Linked DNA regions of Homo sapiens: region 2 is linked to region 1. Evidence: fine-mapped expression QTL. A gene starts in region 1. The other region holds a variant in brackets. All regions are shown on one strand. Distances are from middle to middle.

Region 1 (5,370 bases):
TTCAAATTCCACCAAAAGCCTTTTTACATATTCTGGAAGAATCAGTTCGAAGACATAAAAGCCTTTACTTTTTTCTTTTATTATATTTTCTCAAATAAACTTCCCCAAAGGAAGATATTTTAAGAGCATTTTCAAACATCTTTGGCATCACATAAAAAAGAAATCTCGTGTAAAAAACGAAATGTCATCTGAGCTTTTATAATACAAAGGCGCAATCCAATATGAACATATAAAATATATACAAATATAGTGCATGGTCAGTCACTTAATACAGCTCTCTCTACAAAAAGTAACTTCTTAGAAATTAAAAAAACACAAAGTAACCACTTAATCAAAAAAGTCCTCTTCTCTCCCAGTATTCAAGTTCCTGTTTAGAGTCCGGAGGGAAGAGAGGTGGGTTGGGGAGTTTAGGAGGAGGGGTGGCCTGAGCCCCCTCAGTTCCGCCACGGCCTCCACATGGAGTCCGCCGTAAGCGAGGGGCCGCTGGAAGGTGACACTGCGTTGGGGCCCACGGAGGTGCCGCTGTTGCTGGTGTAGACGGGGATGACAGGGCCGCTGTGCGCGAAGGCCCCGTTGGGAATGAGGAAAGCAAACTGGCCATCGGGAGCCGGTACCACCTGGAAGCCTCCAAACACCTTAGCCGCCTCTCCAGCCTGGCTGCCCAGCTTGCAGGGGGCGCCGCCGGGAGGGGGCGCCGCGCCCCCGGGGATGGGCACGAGTGGCGGCGGCGGCGCGAACGGCGCGTGCTGGGGGCCGCCGGGTCCCGGTGGGGGCGGTGGCGGCGCCTGCAAGGCGGGGTGCGGCTGCCCGGGGTAGGTCATGGCATTGATCTGGGTCATGCAGTTGGCCAGGTGGCCGAGCAGCCGAGTGCGCACCTCGGTATTAACGCCCTCGCACGTGGACAGGAAGCGGGTCACCTCGTTCATGCACTCGCTGAAGCCGGCTCGGTACTTCCCCAGCACACTTGGGTCTGTGCTCAGCGCAGCTGCGGGCCAGAAAGAGACAGACGGGTCACCGAACGGCCCTGGCCCCGTGGCCACTGCCTCCGCCCTGGGAGGTCCCTGTGGCGCGCCTCCCTGACCATGCGCCCGTGAAACTGCCTCCGGCAGGGAGGGTGAGATGGGTTTAGAAAAAACCAGCCACCTCTCCACACTAGCGTTGCTGCCAAAAGCCGAGCCACTCCTTCCCGATTCCCTGTAGCTGCATTTAAACCTATCTCAGCCCCAGATCTGTCACCCCCACCCCCGCGCGCGATGTGACCTTGGACAATGCCTCCCAATCCATCATCCAAGCCTCATTTCCCCTTCTGCAACGGGAAGGAGTGCTAAACCAGTGACCCCCAGGCTCCACGCAGTTCCAAACCGCCACAGTCCTAAGTCCTTTCGCCCCTACCCGGCGCCCGCCACCCTCGCGGCTGCAACCTCTTTCCCTCCCTTTCCGGAACAGTAACAACTTGGAGTTGTGGCTATAAATAAGCCCCAGACCGTGGGAACGCAAGAGTGAGCCAAGGCAGTAAAATGTAGCTGAATGCCTCTCACAACCACGGGCGGAAGTCTGGAAGAAATCACCGCGAGGCGAGCGGGACGCCCGCACAGGGGGACGCGGCGAGCCGCCCTCACCCGTCATCTGCGCCCGCTGCAGGTTCCGGAGGTGCTTCACTGTCATTTCCAGAATGTCCGCCTTCTCCAGCTTGGAATGCCGCGAGCTCTGCATAGAGTAGGCAAGAAAGGAAAGTGAGCCCCGTGTCAGCTGCTTCAGAGTGCTGGGGGTCCCTCCTCCCGGCCACGGAGCGCAAGCATTATCTCTGGACCCCAGCGAATAAGGCCGGGCCCTCCCGCCTGGGAGAACGCAGTACCAGCGAGTGCCAGACCCCGCAGGGCGGGGGGTTTCACTCTTAGTAGCTGAGAAAGTGTTTGTTTTTTAATTAAAAGAGCGAGCAGCATTTCCCCACTTACATCTTTCTTCAGAGCATCCAAAATCAGTGTTTTCAGCTGGCTCAGACTTTCATTTATTCTTGCTCTTCGTCTTTTCTCCATAATAGGCTTTGATGACTGCAAATAAAAAAAAGAGTTCTGTGTTCCCATGGAATCTGCCATCCCGGGGTTTCAAGACAGAAAGAAGCCCCCCAACCCCTACTTAATTTTGAGGGGCTGCAAAGAGATACAGGTACCGCCCTTACCTTTCTGTGCTCAGATGCTGTCTTTGGTTTATCCGGTGTCGTGTTGACACTGGCTGGGGTAGCAGCCACCGGGGACGAGGAATTTTTCTCCATTATATCAGCTGGCATTTTCCTTTTTTTTTTTTTTTTATCTCTAGAGAATTTTATTTTTGGAGTTCTTCACGAAAAAGAATTTTTTGTTTGTGTCTCTTTTACTTGAGACTTTCACAAAACTACTGAGCAAGTGCTGAGGGTTTATTATATTTTGTGGCTACTTGGTGATCAGTAGCGCTGTTCCAGGACCAAGGAGAGAGGTAGACGGGGGATTCCGCTGTTATCAGCACCAGCTCCGGATCCTGTGTGATCCCTAGGCCCTGGCGGCCTCTATATATATCTGGGACTGCACGCGAACGGCTCGTGTGAAACTTCCCAAACTTTCTTTCCCACAGTAACTTTCAGCCAATGGGAGGAGGAGACACGCGGCACCGCTCGTGGACCGCGCCCCCCCATTGGCCGCCAGGCACAAGGTCTGGCGGCCAATGGCGCGCGCCTGAGCCCAGGGCACCGGAGGCTACAACGTCAATCAAAAGGATTTTAACCCTTTGCTACTCTCCCTCTGGGCTTTGGTTTAGAGATTTTTTTTTTCTTTCCGCTTTGGTCTTGATCTTGTCTATTTCTTTTGGAGCCAGGGTCTTTGCTCTTTATGCCCTCTCTCATATGTAACAGAGCTGCTTTGACTGTAGTAAGTTCATTTGAAACATATTTTTTTTAAAGGTATAAACAATAAAGAAAAAAACAGCAGTGGTTAAAAGGGGGCGGGGGGAGGGGGGGACGGGTGTAAGAATGTGAGTTACCGACACATCTAAAGTTCCCGCTCAGACTTTACATTCAGGAGGGTGAAAGTAGATGGTAAAGGAAAAGGGCCAAAAAAATTTTCCTGTTTCCATGCAGAAAAAGGAAAAATTGCCTTCTACCTCACAAATGCAGGTTTTTCGGAGCAAGGTAGTTCTTGAATCCCACCCCCACCCCGTCTTTCAGAAATTCCTCGTTTGGATTTGGGGCCTTAGACCCCGGGCTTCCCCAGGAAACAATCAGAATAATTTCCAACTGGGTGGAAGGAAACGGTATTTCAAATGAAAAAATGAACAAGGGGGGCTCCGAGGGCAATGACTCAGGGACTCGCGCCCTCCTTCACCACCCTTTCCCTTTTCATCCGTAGGCTTTAGGTTCTGCGGCGCGTTGAGGTGGCGGGCAAGGAAGCAGCCTCTCCCTCCTCGCCCCGCGGGCGGCCTCGGCCCCCGGCGCCCGCGGGCCCTTTAAGAGCTACACCAGCCGAGCTGCAGTTTGACATCAGCCGGCCGGCGTGGGCGCGCCTGGAGCCGGAGCACGTGCCAGGATGTTTTATTGCCGCCGCGGCTGCGGCCGGGCCGGGAGGATGTGTGTGTGCGTGCGTGTGTGAGTGAGTGTGTGTGCGCGCGCCCCGGGGGCAGGGAGGCGGGGGGCGGCGACGGGCGGCGGAGAGCGGGGGCCGGTTCCTGGTCCCCGGGAGAAGCCAAGAAGGTAAATAGCAGCTGCTGTGCTCGAGCCTGGGAAAACCCCGCCCCCTGCGCCTGGCCCGGGCTCATTGGCGCGCGCTGCGTGTGGGGGGTGTGTGTGTGTGTGTGTCCGGGGCCCCCTCCTCCGGCCCCGCCGGGCCAGGAATCCGAGGGGGCGGCGGGCTGGGAGCCGAGCCCCGGCGCTTACCCTCTCTCCCCACCCCCGCCTCCCCAGGCCAAGGTCAGCTCTTCCCGGCGGGGAGCGCACACCCGGGGTGGAGAGTGGGGAATTCTTCCAACCCCCGCCTCCCCACCCTCACTTTCGGGCTTGGGGTTTTCACTCGGCCGAAAGCCGCATTCGCAACAGCCCGGGGGCGAGGTGGGGGCCTCCAAGTTTGCTCCTCGCCCCCGCCCTCTCCCCGCGGGGCCCTGGGCGCCCGCCGCGGTCACGGGATGCCTGACCGCACTTAGGAAGCGGCCGGGTCAGCCTCCTGCCTCCGCTCGGCGACTGCGGTTAAAGCGGCTTCGCGCCGCCCGCCCCTTCCCCGGGTCCCGGGCGGCCGGGCCGCTCCCCCTCACTACGCCCGGGAGGCCGCCGGCGGGCGCCCGGGAGGAGGCGGGCGGCGCGGGCGGCTGCGTGCTGCCTGCTGGCCGGGCCGCGCGCCGGGAGGAGTCGCCGCCGCCGCCGCCGGGTGCCACGTGGCGGGCGCCGGGCCGGGAGCGCCAGGGCTCTGGCGGCGGCCTCCCTGGGGGATTTGCCGAGCCGGGCGGGCGGCGCGCACTGCCTGGGCCGGCCGGCCGCCTCCTCCGCCTCCCTCCCGCCTGCCCGGGTCGCCGGCCCCCGTGCCCCCACCCCCCCTCCGCCCTTCCCGCCGCCTGGGAGCTCGGCTCGCGGCTCCGGGCAGCCCGGGAGCCCAGCGTCTTGTTTGATGTGGCCTCCCGCCCCCTCAGCCCTTCCCGCGTCCCGGAGGCCTGGCGCACGGTTCTCAGACACTTCATTCCTTCCGGCCTCCCAGCTCCCCACTGAGATAACGTTGTCAATGATTTCGCCAGATCTCGTCCCGGATGAGATTCAGTGGTTCCTGACTCTGGGTGACCTTGGGCAAGCCCCCCTCTCTCTTTCATTGTGGAACACACGCGCAGTGTCAGACACTGTGTTAAACCCTGGGATTTCCACGGTGAGAGATACAGTGGCGGCCTGCTAGAAGTTGACAGTAAACTGCGGGGGCAGACAGACGCTGATTTTCTGATTGATGACTGGACATTCCTTTATTTTTCCTTTCTTTTCTGAGTTAGGTGGTGGCTTGAGAGATCAGGAGGACAGAAACAAAATATGAAACCATACTTGTATGGATAACAGTATTGCTGGTCTACCTGGGTTTACAGCAGTGAGTAAGACCGTTATTGCTCTCTGGAAGCTAACAGTCTAGAGATACATATAAACGTGTACAGCTGACATCTACGGATGGCCCAGTAAATTCCTCTGGGAAGTCGTAGGTTCAAGAGAGACGTATGTCTGGATAGAGGTAAAATGCTATGGAGTTTCAGGAGAATTAAGTTACTTTTAAGTTGGGGTACCTTGGAAAACTTCCTGGAGGGATTGGCCTGTGTACCTTGAAAAATAGGTAGGATTGGGGCATTGGGAATGTGCTTAGTCGTGGGCTGGAGAGGATGCAG
Region 2 (5,370 bases), 24 kb after region 1:
CTAGGTGGAGGCCGTGAGCTCTGTGTTTTTCTTTTACGAGTTGGTCTGATTATAACTGTTGGGGGTTGCATCCTGTCCCCTAAAAAGATATTCAGTCTTCACCTCCAGATTCTCAGCATTGACGTTATTTGGAAATAGGGCCATAGCAGATGTAATTAATAAAGATGAGGTCATAATGGAATAGGGTGGGTCCTTAATCCAGTATGAGTGGTGTCATAAAAATAGATGAGACACAGAGACAGAAACACTCAAGGTGAGAACTCCACGTGACGATGGAGGCAGAAGTTGGAGTGATATAGCTGCTGGCCGAAGAATGCCGTGAATTGCTGGCAACCACCAGAGACTAGGAAGAGGCAAGGAAGGAGTTTCCCTTACAGGGTTCGGAGGAAGCATGGTCCTGCTGACTCCTTGATTTTAGACTGCTGGCCTCCAGAACTGTGACACAATACATTAATACATTTTTGGTCTTTTTTTTTTTTTTTTTTTAGACCGAGTCTCGCTCTGTCGCCCAGGCTGGAGTGCAATGCCTCGATCTCAGCTCACTGCAACCTCCGCCTGCCGGCTTCAAGCAATTCTCCTGCCTTAGCCCCCTAAGTGGCTGGGATTACTGGCACCCACCACTACACCCGGCTAATTTTTGTATTTTTAGTAAAGACGAGTTTTCTCTATGCTGGCCAGGTTGTTCTCGAACTCTCGACCTGAGATGATCCACCCACCTCGGCCTCCCAAAGTGCTGGGATTACAGGCCTGAGCCACCGTGCCTGGCCCATTCTTGGTCTTTTAAGCCACCAAATTTACGGTACTTTGTTATGGCAGCCCCCCCGGGAAACTAATAGATCACTCCACCTCCAATATTATGCTTAAAAACAAAATCTAAAGGTTGGGTGCAGTGCCTCACACCTGTAATCCCAGCACTTTGGGAGGCCGAGGTGAGCGGATTGCTTGAGCTCAGGAGTTGGAGATCAGCATGAGCAACACGGCGAAACCCTGTCTCTATGAAAAATACAAAAAATTAGCCAGGTGTACCGGTGCACACTTACAGTCCCGGCTACTTGGGGGGCTGAGGCAGGAGGATCGCTTGAGCCTGGGAGGTCGAGGCTGCAGTGAGCTGAGATGGCACCACTGCACTCCAGCCTGGATGACAAGGTGAGACTCTGTTTCTAAATAAATAAATACGTAAAAAAAAAAAAAAAAAAACCTACAACCCCCGTTTCCTTTAACTTCTATGAAATGTTCAAAGGAAAGTAGGCTTGGCTTGAACTTACATTTTTGAAATGTTAACTACAGTCTTTCATTAAAATATTTCATGTTCTTAAAGCTGTGAAATCTTTGCACATGGGGTCCTATGTGTGGTATATATTGGGTAGTAAAATAAACAAGTTAATAAATAATCTCCCTCCTCAACAAACAGAAAAAAAGTTCCCCCAATTCCCTTCTTTCCCAGTCTTTTGAAAAGTAAATTTGCTGTGAACTGGCTGCTTCATTCATCTGAGTTTGACCACGTGTTCAGTCTGAGGGTGTTTCACTTTCCTCTCTAGGAGCAGGGCATGATTGGATTAAATGGGATGCAGAATCATTTTTCACCTCTGCAGAAATGATCCCACTTGCCCCTGAATATCTTTCTTGCATTTTCTTTCATCTACCCATCTTCCTAGAGACAGGTTTCCAGTTCTGGCTTCTCCTCCGGTGCCCTTAATCAAACCCACAGTTTGGCAGACGAAGCACAGCCCCTCCTTCTCCATCCCCATGGAGATCCAGGAATTTGTAGGAGTCGCCTCATTTCTGGTTATTCAATAACCGGCAGGGCATCGAATGTCAGGGCTAAGAAAACAAACCTGCCTACCTGTTGGACTGAATGACCTCATAGCCTGAGCTGTTCTCATGGTGTTGGCTTGCACTGTCTGTCAGCGACTCTTTCATCACAAGCCCGACTGACATCATACTGTTCTAAACACCTAACCTGATCATTGTCACTGTGCTTACAACACAGCCAAAGACAGCAGTTAAGGCTCTGATTAAGCCTGGGGGCAGTCTTGCATGAGGAAGTAAGGGGTCTTTTTTTTTTTTTTTTTTCCCAGCCTTAAGAATGGAGGATGTGAATGGGGAAGGAATGAAGGGGCTTATTGTGTTTTAATTCCAAATTTGTCCTTAACCTCCCTACCTGGATTTCCAGCCCAAGGCTTCACTCAGTACTCGGTGGAGAAGAGCAAACCATCTGCCCACATCTGACCTGGCTGACCAGGGCTTTCCTGCAGGGGAGGGAAGATTCTAGCACCATTCCACTTGTGGATGTCTCTGATTGGAAAATGATCTTCTCTGAGCTTTAGTGAATAACCTGAGGGCCTCCATTAGATTGTATTTGTGGGCCACTTTTCATCACTGGATTCCCAGGCAATGACTGTGAAAGATTCCCACAAAACAATAGAATGGATGCAAAATAATCCTATTATTTATTTATTTATTCATTTTTCAGACAGAGTTTTGCTCTTGTTGCCCAGGCTGGAGTGCAGTGGTGTGATCTCAGCTCACTGCAACCTCCGCCTTGTGGGTCCAAGCAATTCTCCTGCCTCAGCCTCCCAAGTAGCTGGGATTACAGGCGCCGGCCACCAAGCCTGCCAAATTTTTGTATTTTAAGTAGAGACAGGGTTTCACCATGTTGGCAAGGCTGGTCTTGAACTCCTGACTTCAGGTGATCCACCTGCCTCAGCCTCCCAAAGTGCTGGGATTACAGGCGTGAGCCACCGC[G/A]CCAGGCCTGGAAAATGATCTTGAAAGCAAGTCATAGCTTCCTCAAGTTAGAGTTGGAAGGATTAGGGAGATACTAAAAGGGAAGTTAATTATTCTATGTGATATAAATTCATTCATTTGCTCACTCATTCATTCACCTATTCATTCATGAAATCAATATTTTCTGAATGCCTGCCGTAGGCCATGTACTGTGTGATGCACTCAGGAAACAAAGACAAAGTCACAGGTCAGTGACATTCATGTGACTTGTATCCAGGAAGAAGCCTGTCCAGATGGCCGAGAGGGCCATGAGGAAGAAGAAAGCTCAAGGAGTGGCTGGGGAAGCAGGGAGGAGAGTTTTGGCCTAAGACTAGAATATTGATTTTCAAAGCATAGGCCCTCGGCACTGGACATCACAGTGATCGGGGAAGTATCTCAGTCAGCTTTGGCTGCCTTAATAAAATACCTTCACAGCAGGAATTGATCGTCTCCCAATTCTGGAGGCTGAATGCCCAAGAGCAAGGTGCTAGCAGGGTCCGTGTCTGTTTGGTGAGGGCGCTTCCTGGCTTGCAGATAGCTGTCTTCTGGCTGTGTCTTGTTATGGCCTTTCCTGGGTACTTGAGAGTAGAGAGAGCTCTCTGGCATGTCTTCTTATGAGGGCACTAATCCCATCCATCATGGGGCTCCCTTCCTCACGACCTCATCTAAACATAATGACCTCCCAAAGGCCCCATCTTCAAATGCCATCACATTAGGGGTGAGGGCTTCAATATATGAATTTTGGGGTGAAACAATTCAGTCCATAGCAGGGAGTTGGTTAAAAGGCAGATTCCAAACTTCCACCCTAAACCTACTGAATCCGTGTTTCTGGAACAGGTCCTGGAAATCTCCGTGTTGATTGTTAGGTATGCTAATGTTGGAGAATGTCCTCTTTAGGATGATTTAGGCTGTTACATAGAAAAGGATGTTTCCAGGGAGAGCTGGAGCTGGTGAATGCACACATGAACGAGGAACGTTGGCCTTGGGGCGAGGCCCAGCGTTCCGTATATTTGTGAATTTATTTATAACTGAGGCTTTGGCTGACGTAGAGCTGAGCAAAGGATAGGCTCGGATGTAGTTTTGCAAAATGTCAAGATAGAGCCATAATCCTACCACTGCAATTTGTCTCAAGAATTTAAGGACTCTCTCTTTTCCCTTCCCTTCCCTTCCGTACCCTTCCCTCCCCTTCCCTTCCCTCCCCTTCCCTTCCCTTCCGTTCCCTTCCCTTCCCTTCCCTTCCCTTCCCCTTCCCTTCCCTTCCTTCCTTGCTTTCTTGCTTTCTGATTTTACCTGCTTTTTCTAAGGAAGTCAGCTTGTATAAGGAGATTTAAAGACAGGCATGCAATTCTGAGGGATCACTGGGGTGAATTATTTGTTACCTGTTGTTGCTCATTTACCTGATCGGGGAGATTAACATTCTCCTTTGAGGTTTCTTTTCCTTTTAGGAACTGCTGTGGCTCTTGCCAAAGTCTCCAGGTAACCTTCTGCTGGGGAGAGAAAACCTCCACCAGTCTCCAACTATACTTGGCTCTCAATAAGAAAGCAAGAGGGCCAGGCACAGTGGCTCACACCTAGCTCTTTGGGAGGCCGAGGTAGGAGGATTGCTTGAAGCTAGGAGTTTGAGACCAATCTGAGCAACAAAATGAGATCTCTGTCTCTCTCAATAAATAAATAAATAAATAAATAAATAAATAAATAAATAAATATAAATTAACTAGTCGTGGTGGTACACACCTGTAGTTGCAGCTATTCCAGAGGTTGTGATGAGAGGATCACTTAAGTCCAGGATGTCGAGGCTGCAGTGAGCCATAATCCTACCACTGCACTCCAGCCTGGGCTGTTTTGCTCAGTGACTAATTACAGTTGGAGGAAATCAATCCTGAAAATTGGGGTGCCTTTGCCATCCACTTATCGCTTCAACATAAAATTTTTGAGTGCCTTCCATGGCATGGTGTGAGTTGCTGTGGTTAGTTAGGTGAATAAGACAGACACAGCCCCTGTCTTCATGACATTTATAATCTACAGGTGAAAAGAAACAAGTAAACGATGGATTGCAATGAAGCGTGGTGAGAGTTATGTTAATTCTCCTGTGGTTCCTTCTTCATGCCTTCAGAGACTGAACCTAGCTCAGGGCTGGATGGCTCATTGGTACTCAAAATATCCTTGTCCTGCATTCCTTTTTTGTTTGTTTGCAAACATTTGCTGAACCCCTATGAAATGTCATGTTGAATAGATATGTCCTGGGCTCTGCTTATAACCTTAGAGGCAGATTTTTTAAATTGAACAACATGCAAAACCTTGTTGCAGAGAGCTCAGAGTCAAGTGAGGAAGTCAGACAAATAAACAAATGGCATCAGGGCTATGCTAATGACTCAGATAATACAGCAGTGGTCTGTACCAGGCCATAAGGGAATGTGGGAGTGGAGAAAGGGGTACAGGGGGGATGATTTCTGCTGGAGAAAGGAGCAAGGGCCAAGTGGCCCAGCAGGGATCCCTGAAGGTAGAGAGTGCAGGCTGGACTTGAAGCATATTAAGAGGGTTTGAATTCTTTCAGCACTTCCCAGCCAATAGGTTAAATGATAACTAATTCAATCATTCATTGAATTG

The links.
Region 2: its variant is fine-mapped to the expression of HES1 in whole blood (INTERVAL, PIP 0.98).

What each region holds. Positions count from the first base shown.
Region 1 is chr3:194,133,298-194,138,667 of GRCh38, reverse strand. It overlaps HES1 (hes family bHLH transcription factor 1), which reads right to left and starts at 2,520. Exons shown (of 4, transcript NM_005524.4): 1 at 2,180-2,520; 2 at 1,956-2,051; 3 at 1,620-1,707; 4 at 1-985. The coding sequence starts at 2,287. The coding sequence ends at 435. RefSeq lists enhancers at 407-596, 2,394-2,553, 1,363-2,562 and silencers at 627-826, 3,553-4,092, 4,163-4,442.
Region 2 is chr3:194,109,169-194,114,538 of GRCh38, reverse strand. The region is part of intron 5 of LOC102724877; the gene reads right to left. Among named protein-coding and RNA genes, the nearest start is that of HES1, 24 kb to the left of the region's middle. The variant G/A (reference allele first, on the strand shown) is at 2,746.